Regions from separate parts of the Homo sapiens genome. Here region 1 is linked to region 2. The links come from fine-mapping of genetic effects on gene expression. Tissue or cell type: whole blood. Region 2 holds a variant in brackets; the other region holds the start of a gene. All regions are shown on one strand. Distances are from middle to middle.

Region 1 (4,844 bases), 45 kb after region 2:
ACAGATACCATGTACGGAATGCAGAGGTTCATGAGAAGAGGGTGTGGAAGCTTGGAATTGCCCTTGGAGCATTTCCCTGTACCAGGATGACTTTTCACTGCGGCGCCCCCACAGTGCTCTTGTTTCTACCACCTGTTCTTCCCCACCTCTATTGGGATTTCTGCCACAACTTTCTTTTTTTTTTTGAGGTGGAGTTTCACTCTTGTTGCCCAGGCTAGAGTGCAATGGTGCAATCTCGGCTCACCACAACCTCTGCCTCTTGGGTTCAAGTGATTCTACTGCCTCAGCCTCCCAAGTGGCTGGGATTACAGATGTGCCACCATGCCCGGCTAATTTTTTGTATTTTTAGTAGAGATGGCATTCTCCATGTTGGTCAGGCTGGTCTCGAACTCCTAACCTCAGGTGATCCGCCTGCCTTGGCTTCCAAAAGTGCTGGGATTAAAGGCGTGAGCAAAAAATATTTATTGCAATGAACATAAAGAAAAAGGACATTTAAAACACCAGGAAAATTCAGCCGGGCACAGTAGCTCACGCCTGTAATCCCAGCACTTTGGGAGGCTGAGGCAGGTGGATCACCTGAGGTCAGGAGTTCTAGACCAGGCTGGCCAATATGGTGAAACCCTGTCTTTATTAAAAATACAAAAAATTAGCCAGGCGTGGTGGTAGGCACCTGCAATCCCAGTTACTCAGGAGGCTGAGACAGGAGAATCGCTTGAACCCAGGAGGCAGAGGTTGCAGCGAGCCAAGATTGTGCCACTGCACTCCAGCCAGGGCAACAGTGCAAGACTCTGTCTCAAAAAAATAAGCAAACAAACAAAAGAACCTAGGAAAACTCCTCCCACAGTCTCTAAATAAATCAACTCACTTTCTAGTTACTCACAAAGTCTGTCTTATCTGCATTTTTTTTTTTTTTTTTGAGAGAGGGTCTCATTCTCTTGCCCAGGCTGGAGTGCAGTGGCACGATAAGGGCTCACTGCAGCCTTGACCTCCCAGGCTCAAGTGATCCTCCTACCTCAGCCCCCCTGACCCGTGGGAGCTGGGACTACAGGAGTGTGCTACCACACCTGGTTAATTTTTTGTATTTTCAGTAGAGATGGGGTTTCGCCATATTGGCCAGGCTGGTTTTGAACTCCTGGGCTCAAGTGATCTGCTTGCCTTGGCCTCCCACAGTGCTGGGATTACAGGAGTGAGCTATTGCACCCGGCCTTCTGCATTCTTAATTCTTATGAGTTCACAGCGCAGACTCCATCATGTAGTCTGCCCTTTCCCTTTAATATGGTACATAGTATCACAAGTGGTTGCCGGTTCTGCTGCAGAGTCTCCAACAAGATGATTTAAAATAATTGTATCCAATTGGGCAAGCCATCGCTTAGCCATTTTTCTAAGGCTGGAGAGTTTTTCCCCAAGTTAAAAAAATTATTATTACATTTTGGATGAAAGCCACAGCTATTTGAGTCCAGAGGGAAAACGCACATTTTTTTGTTGGCGGACACTGATGCTCACTGAATGAGCTTTTCCCCAGGATGCTGTCTGGGACGTGCTTCTCAGAGGGTGAGCACAGATTAGTGCTGGTCTACCGTGCTTTGCTATTGCCTTGTGGTAAGCACAGAATTTGAGAGTAACCATTTAGAAAATTATTATTATTGTTGCTATTTTTAGCAGTTAAACAATGTTTTGTTTGCTGAATCTAAAAATAAAAAAAATTTGGGCTTGCATTTTGTATATCTTTTTTAAAAAATTATCTTTAGGAGGTAATTCCTTTAATTCTATTTTACAAAAGTATTGTCTATAAAGAACCGGAAATGATAAAACAGAAAGAGAGATAGTTAGGGATGGTTTGTCTTCTGGTCTAGAAGACAATATTAGGTACTGGTAGATGCTCAACAAATCTATAACCACAGACTTTTGGTGCTGAAGTACCTTGTGTGGTTTTGTGTTTGAGAAGTCTGAGGCTTATCAAGCAGCACACAATGTGAATGACCTTGGGCAGAATCTGTGGGCCTCCACTTGTACTCAGTGACCACAATATTGCACTTCCATGTGATAAAATTTTGGGTGCTCATGGTGATGATAACTGCAGGGAGCAGAAGCAGTGTGTGGGGAGATTGGAACAAAACTTTTGCCCCACCAGGACGATGCTGTGACAGAAAGTGTTTCCACCTCTGTCCCAGCTATGGTCCTGAGGTCTCTAAACACCATCTAACTTTGCCCCAGATCTCCCAGGCACATCCCAGAAACAAACAACTCGATGGTGGAGTTTCTTAGGAAGAGATGAACTGATGATTTGGGGAGAATCTGTATAGAAGTTTCCAGCAATGAGATCCTGAGAGATTCTTGCATTCTGATCTCTAAATGGCAAGAGATGAATGATAAATGATCGAGTTGGGGAAGTTTGTCTGCAATCTGATTTCTGCAACTCACAGGTGTGAGGTTTTAAACAGATGTTGCTGGCAGGCAAACTAAACATTAATACTCCCCTTTCAGGATTGTAAAGGTGCCCAGCCCAGTAATGTGTGTGTGTGTGTATATATATAGAGCCGGAGCCAGATCTTTTCAAAGGAGTCAGAGCTCCTTTCCTCTCTGGTCTCTGCCTCCTTCCTGCCAGGCTCTTTCTCTTGCCTGCTTCTCTGGATGCTCCAGCAAACATGAGCCACCAATTTAGTTCTCAGTCCGCGTTTAGTTCAATGAGCAGGCGGGTTTATAGTACCAGCTCTTCTGCAGGCTCTGGTGGTGGGAGTCCGGCAGTGGGTTCTGTGTGTTATGCTCGAGGGAGGTGTGGTGGTGGTGGATATGGGATCCATGGAAGGGGGTTTGGCTCTAGGAGCCTCTACAATCTGGGTGGCAGTAGAAGCATCTCCATTAATCTAATGGGGAGGAGCACCAGTGGTTTCTGCCAGGGTGGGGGAGTAGGGGGATTTGGAGGGGGCAGAGGCTTTGGGGTTGGCAGCACCGGGGCTGGTGGCTTTGGAGGAGGTGGTTTTGGGGGTGCTGGATTTGGGACTAGCAATTTTGGGCTTGGGGGCTTTGGTCCTTATTGTCCTCCTGGGGGCATCCAAGAGGTGACCATTAACCAGAGCCTCCTAGAGCCACTTCACCTGGAGGTGGACCCTGAAATTCAGAGGATCAAGACCCAGGAGCGGGAGCAGATTATGGTTCTCAACAACAAGTTTGCCTCCTTCATTGACAAGGTGAGCACCTCAGGGGCAGGGAGGGTCATTGGTCACTGACCAAATGACTGAGAGAGATTACACCTTACCACCTCTCACCACATCGTGCTGTTTCAGCTTGACCTGGGACCTTAGAAAATCATTTACCCATTTGGGCTTCAATTTGTCTTCTTGCAGGGATTTAATTCCATCTTTTCCTTTTGGCAGGAAAGGAGATAAGCAGTGTTAAAATACTCAACAGATACATGGTGTAGTACCCTCATTCTCATTCATAATTATTCACTTTCCATCCACCCATCCACCCATGCACCCATCTATCCATCCCCATCCACACAATCCATTTATACACACACACACAAACACACACACACACACACACACACACATCCATCCATTCACTTATTCATCAATCCACCCAACTATCCACCCTTCCGTCCATCCATCCATCCACCCACCCATCCACACAATCCATTTATACACACACACACACACATGCACACACACACACGTGTTCATCTGTTCATTCACTCATCCATCAATCCATTCAACTATCCACTCATGCATCCATCCACCCATCTAGCCCACAAATATTTTCTAAGAATCTATGATAGGCCAGACATCGTGCCAGGTGCTACAGGTGACTAGGACACAGGTCCTGCCATCAAGGAGCCCACGTCTAAAGGGGAGAGAATTACTACAGTGTATGTGAAGTGTGTCAATAGGGGTAGTACTCTCTGGGCCATGGTAGCTCAAAGGAGGGTGTCATGAGCTCTGCTTGCTGAGTCTGGAAGGCGGATGAAAAGTTAAATGGGTTCTAATTTTAGTATATGTGCTGCCGAAGTGAGCACGAGTTAAATGGGTTCTCAGGGCAGAGGGGATTTTCAGGCAGAAGGACCAGGAGGCATGAAAGCGTGACGCGTTTAGGGAATTTCAAACAGTTACAATTCCTGGAGAAAATGGGATACCAAGGGGTGGAGGAGAGAAGTGGAGATGAAGCCACAGAGCCAGGGCAGGAGAAGCAGGCAGGGCATGGTGAATGCCCTGGTGGTGGGTATCTCTTGGGGCTAAAGTCAATAGCATGCAATGTAGGGTTCTGTCTGAGTTTCCCCTTTTGGCTCATCAAGGGCCAAGGATGGGCCAGATGGAGACACAGAAGCCCCTGTCCCTAGTTCCCTGTTGAAACTTCAGATTAGGTCCAAAGCAGCAGCAGAGGCTGGAGAACTCGCCATGGTGAAGACCTCCCTCCAGCATCTCCTTTTGTCTGGAGGTCGAGGCACAGCGGCCACTAGCACCTCCCCAGGAGGAACTTTGCCTTCAGGGATGCAGTGGGAAGCCCCACAGAGCACCAAGGCCGCTTGCACACTCAGTGACTTTCCCTCAGTCCCCACGGGAGTTCAGTGCTGAGGCCAGAGCTTGACCTGTGGCCTGACTGCAGGGTAGCTGTGGCTAGAGGCCATACTGGGTGGCAGGGCAGGCCTCTGATATCTGAGCAGATGCTGGGGATGGGACAGTGTGTGAGCGGGCGGAGGAGGGTGAGAGTGCTGAGGCCCAGAGGCTGCCGAAGAGGAGCGCAACACAGCAGCGTGCTCCCGTGGCTTCCGATCATGCTGCGTGGGAAATTTGGCTGAGTATCACCACGCTTCAGGCAAAGGCAGGGGTTAGAGGGTTTCACTGGAG
Region 2 (4,844 bases):
TGTCTCTTGTTACTTTCCTTTCTCTTCACTAAGATTTAGTTTTCTCTTTTTTCTTTCGTTTTTTTTCAAGGTGGTTGTAAATTTGGTCAGAAACATTAAAACAATGGAATTTTATTTTGACGAAAAATTGAAGTTTATAATCATTTAGTAAATGAAGAGCAAACACTTCATTTTCCTATCCCATAACTCTTGAGAAAAAAAAAGCATAAGTAAATAAATATCTGTGAACAGATTAAGGGTAAGGCAGACTGGATAATAAACCACCTCTGACATTCACACTCTCTGCATATGACTCACTCTAAAGGGTGAAACAGCCCTGGAGATAACTGAACTGATAAGATATGAGCATTAAATCTCATCCAGATCATTCGGGTACGTCCAAGATAAATACTTTTTGCTCATCAAGGGCAGCAAACTATACAAATTTTACTGGAGGAATACTTTGACAGAAGCACTTAAATTATATTGTGCATCACAACTATAAAATGGCTTGAACATTTCCATTTAACCACCATCTATAAAGTGCAACTCTATAATACTCTGCATTTTATCTGGGGTGTGGTGAATATCAATCCAAACTGAAAGTACCCCAGCTGCCAATTTCCACCACTTTTGAAAAGACCTAGATGTGTGAAAAAGGACAGTCTGCCATACAAAGAACAAATTTCACAAACCTACTGGTAAACAAATACATTTATATAACTGGAACTTCAAAATCCTAGAGTTGTACTCATTTAAAAAAACCATTCAGCTACCTTTGGTCTTGAAAAAGCCTACACTGCAACATCCTAAGCATTGTTATGTGCATCTCAATGAAGAAGAGTGGCCTTGCATTGCAGAATGAGGAGAGTACAAGGTCACTGTGAAGAGTAGCATGTTATGGTTTCAAGGAACATCAGCATTACAGCACTGGATTCTGTGCATCAGGATCGGATCAAGGCCACCGTTGCCAGAAGGCAGATGGATAGGGAGAATATCCAGCTCATCCACTTGTGGAGTTGGGTGCATGACTACCAGCTGGTCCTGGGGAATGTCTGCCACAGCTGCTGCAAGGTTGGTGATAGATTTACTCTTTACACACTGAAAGTCTACATGCCGACTCTTTCCTTCCTCCTTCTCCCAGGACATTCAAATAAAGGGTCTTTGGACATAGTTGTAGATAACTTCTGGGTGGCCTCCAGGCCTTTTCTTTACTTTTTCTTTGTAGGTAGGATAACCTTCTATTCCCAATCTAATCTTCTTAAGACCCCTCTCCTTCAAAACTGACTTGGCCACATCTCTGTTTTCAATGTACTTGAAAAATCTATATAATTTTGTGCTATAAATAATTTGTGAATATTCTTGTGCTATAAATAATTTGTGAATATCCATCTGTGGTGGATATTCTTCATCCCAATCAACCACATCATCATCTGTAAGTACCACTATATGACATTCCCGTTCCCCACTCCGGGCACTAGCTACCATGAGAGGGAGGATCATTTCTTCCAGATAAAATTCAAATTGTCTATGAGCACCATCATTTGATAACTCATGCATTAGGGCACTGAGATCTCTACATTTAACAGTACTATATTCAAAAGAGATACAAAGACAGTCACATGCTTCTCTCACTTCAGGAATAGATATGCCATCAGGACAATGGATTATTCCTGTTTTATAGTAATCCGGAATAGCTCAAAACACAGTGGAACCAATCCCCTCTGCCACCTCATACTCTTCTTTCTTATTGGGTCGTGTAAAGTTATGTTCTCGGCCAGATCCAAACATCTTGCCCAACATTGTATTTGGCTGTGCAGTAAAAATGGATGGGTCTACAACAAATCTAGTGTTATCCACTATTAGTGTCACTCGTTCTGACATTCTTATATTGAGCTCCTTCTTTTGCATTTTCATATACAAACACCATCTCCCCAGATGTCTTACAGCTACCACCTGAACTTGACTGACTACTGTTTCTGCTGCTGTTCCCAGCACTGCTAATGGAACCAATTGGGGATGCTTTTTGAGGACGCAGACTGCTTGGACGAGAGGAACTGCAGTCTTTTTCTTGTTCAACATGGTGCTGTCGTGTTGGAGAAGTCACATTTCTAATACAAGGAGTGAGTTGAGACTCTGTTCTTTCATGAGATGAATCTCGTGATCTGTCACTTGACCTTCGTCTATCTCTTGATCTCTTATGTCCCCCACTAGCATCACGTAGACTCATTTTGGTGTGGTCGACTCCTTTAGCAGTACGCGAGGAAGTACTTCAAACCTTTGAATCCCACGGTTTCCCCTTGACTTCCTGTCACGGTTAGAGAAAAGCAGACAGCGTTTCAGTCACAGAGTTGGAGAAATACCGCAGGGACTACTCAGGGAAAGCATTTTCCTCATCAAAGCAAACTCCAAAATCGCTTCTGCCGGTGTGGACCAACTGGAACTGATGAGAGTTGGTCGTCTTGAGGGACACACTCTGTTCCCTAGCATCCCCTGCTGCTTATTTTTAAATGCTCGGTTGGCGGGAACCCGTGTGCCAGCTGAAACTCCTTCAGTTTGGCCACCTAGGAAACATCCAGAGTCACCTGCATGGGCTGTCTGGGCAATAAAAACAGATTTAGTTTTTTCGACCTCATAACATTCCTGAGCCAATGGATGGTCGGTTCAGGGCATCCTAGAGAGATGGTTACAACTGCCCAGTGGTGTGCCCCTCTGTGCTTGTAGGAGTATAACCAGGCCTGTCGCAATCCAGTGATATGTCTGTGGTCCTATCTGTGGATAATAACTGGCACCTGGACCTCAACAGCATCATTGCCAAGGTCAAGGCCTAGTATGAGGAGATGGCTTAGAAGAGCAAGGCCAAGGCCCAGACCCTGTACCAGACCAAGGTAAATAA[GGATCAT/T]TGGATCAATCTGGACCCCACCAGCCTTTTCCAGGGCTTCTGAACTTTACCTCCAGCCTTTCTGGCACCATCCCAGAGAATACATATTTTATTCACTAGGAAACCTATTGAAATTTCTTTCACAAATTTCCATAACTTGCAGAATCTTTTTTTTTTTTTTGAGATGGAGTCTCACTCACTCTGTTGCCCAGGCTGGACTGCAGTGGCACAATCTCGGCTCACTGCAACCTCTCTGCCTCCTAGTTTCAAGCGATTCTCCTGCCTCAGCCTCCTGAGTAGCTGGGATTATAGGCTTGCACCTGTATGCCCAGATAATTTTTGTGTTTTTAGTAGAGACAGCATTTCACCATATTGGCTAGGCTGGTCTTGAACTTTTGACCCCAAGTGATCTACCCGCCCTGGTCTCCCAAGTATCTGGAATTACAGGTGTCAGCCACTGTGCCCAGCCCCATAAACTTGTAGAGTCCTTATAGTGCTTTTCATTTGACTACCCGATATCTTTAAGGGCAACTGTGAGTTTCAGTTAAGTGATTCTTTCCACTCTACGTGCCTGGTGGGCTTTATGTGAATTAGGACTTTCTGGATTGATTCTATTGCCCTTTTCATACACATGTTTCAGGGTCAGGGATAATCTTTCCCTACCTGCTCTCTCTGTTCACCCAGCTGTAGCCTGGGGAGCTGTAGACCACAGCCAGAAGACATGATGATGACTTGAGGAGCACCAAAAATGAGATTGCGGAGCTCAGCAGGATGATCCACAGGCTGCAGGCAGAGATTGAGAACATCAACAAGCAGGTGGGGGCAGTTCCTCAAAGCCCAGGATTATGGCTCTGATGAAAGTGGTGTCCTGGGATGCCAGAGGAGCCACCTGGACCTAGCAGGTAGGGCAGCTTTTCAGACTCCTGATTGGGACCTTTTGCAACTGGGCTTGCCAAGTGGTACCACATAGAACAAGGACTTTACGCTGTCTTAACTTACATCCATCAACTTAAAGGCAGAATGATCTTCTCTCAATCTGGTAGACATGGTCCCCAAAACTTCATAAACTATGTGGCATTGAGTTTCTGGGATCTCAGAACATGGATTATTCCTTCCCAAGAGGTGGGAAGCAGGTGACCACTATCTCTGGGTAAAGGCTCGACAATCATTGGAGTTTCCCAGTATGGTTTATTTTATATGGATGTGAATGCTATGAGCAGAAGTTAGCATCACCAGCCACATAGCACACAGATTAAAGATTTTCACTAACGGGAAAGATGGAGACCTGTGTTCACCTGCTACATATGCAGTTGGATCCAGGGACTCAGTGCACTTCCTCCTCCTGCTTCGGAATGCTAACCTGGAGGTGGCAATTGCTGACACTGAGCAGCATGGAGCAGGGGGCGATGCTGACCCTCAAGGATGCCCAGGCCAAGTTGGCAGAGCTCAGAGATGCCCTGCAGCAGGCCAGGGAGGACCAGGCTCATCTTCCGTGTGACTACCAAGAGCTGCTGAACATCAAGCTGGGCTGGATGTGGAGACCGCCACCTACCAGAAGATGTTGGAGGGCGAGGAGTACGGCAGCGTAGGCACTCTCTGGTCAAGGCACAGAACCCAACTTGAGAAACCCATTTCACAGGATTATGTGGTCCTTTGGTTAGCTATACTGTGTTACAGTGATTTTTGTCTCTGCATTTCCTTCCCCTTGGTATACGGAGGCTCTAACACAGTGGCAGGGGACAAAGGAAGGGCTCAACAAGTGCTCGATGAAGTGGACTGTACTGCTCAGCACTCTCTCTTTGGGCTCAGAGATACAACTTTTATAATATTTGCTAGAGCAGAACACTAAGAGCCTGCCTCCTAATAGACATATAGTGCACCGAAAGGCAAATGTCAGTGAATCCTGGTGTGGTGGAGAATACAAAGATGAGTACCAGGTAGTCCTAACAGCCTGCTGTCCCTACACTTTAAGCTGGAGTTTCCA

Evidence for each region. PIP is the estimated chance that this variant, and not a neighbour inherited with it, causes the effect.
Region 1: KRT77 starts here. The variant in region 2 is fine-mapped to the expression of KRT77 in whole blood (INTERVAL, PIP 0.98).

The regions. Positions count from the first base shown.
Region 1 is chr12:52,701,236-52,706,079 of GRCh38, reverse strand. KRT77 (keratin 77) reads left to right here and starts at 2,556. Exons shown (of 9, transcript NM_175078.3): 1 at 2,556-3,188. The coding sequence starts at 2,646. RefSeq lists an enhancer at 4,314-4,483.
Region 2 is chr12:52,746,185-52,751,028 of GRCh38, reverse strand. It overlaps the pseudogene BTBD10P1. Among named protein-coding and RNA genes, the nearest start is that of KRT76, 29 kb to the left of the region's middle. The variant GGATCAT/T (reference allele first, on the strand shown) is at 2,876.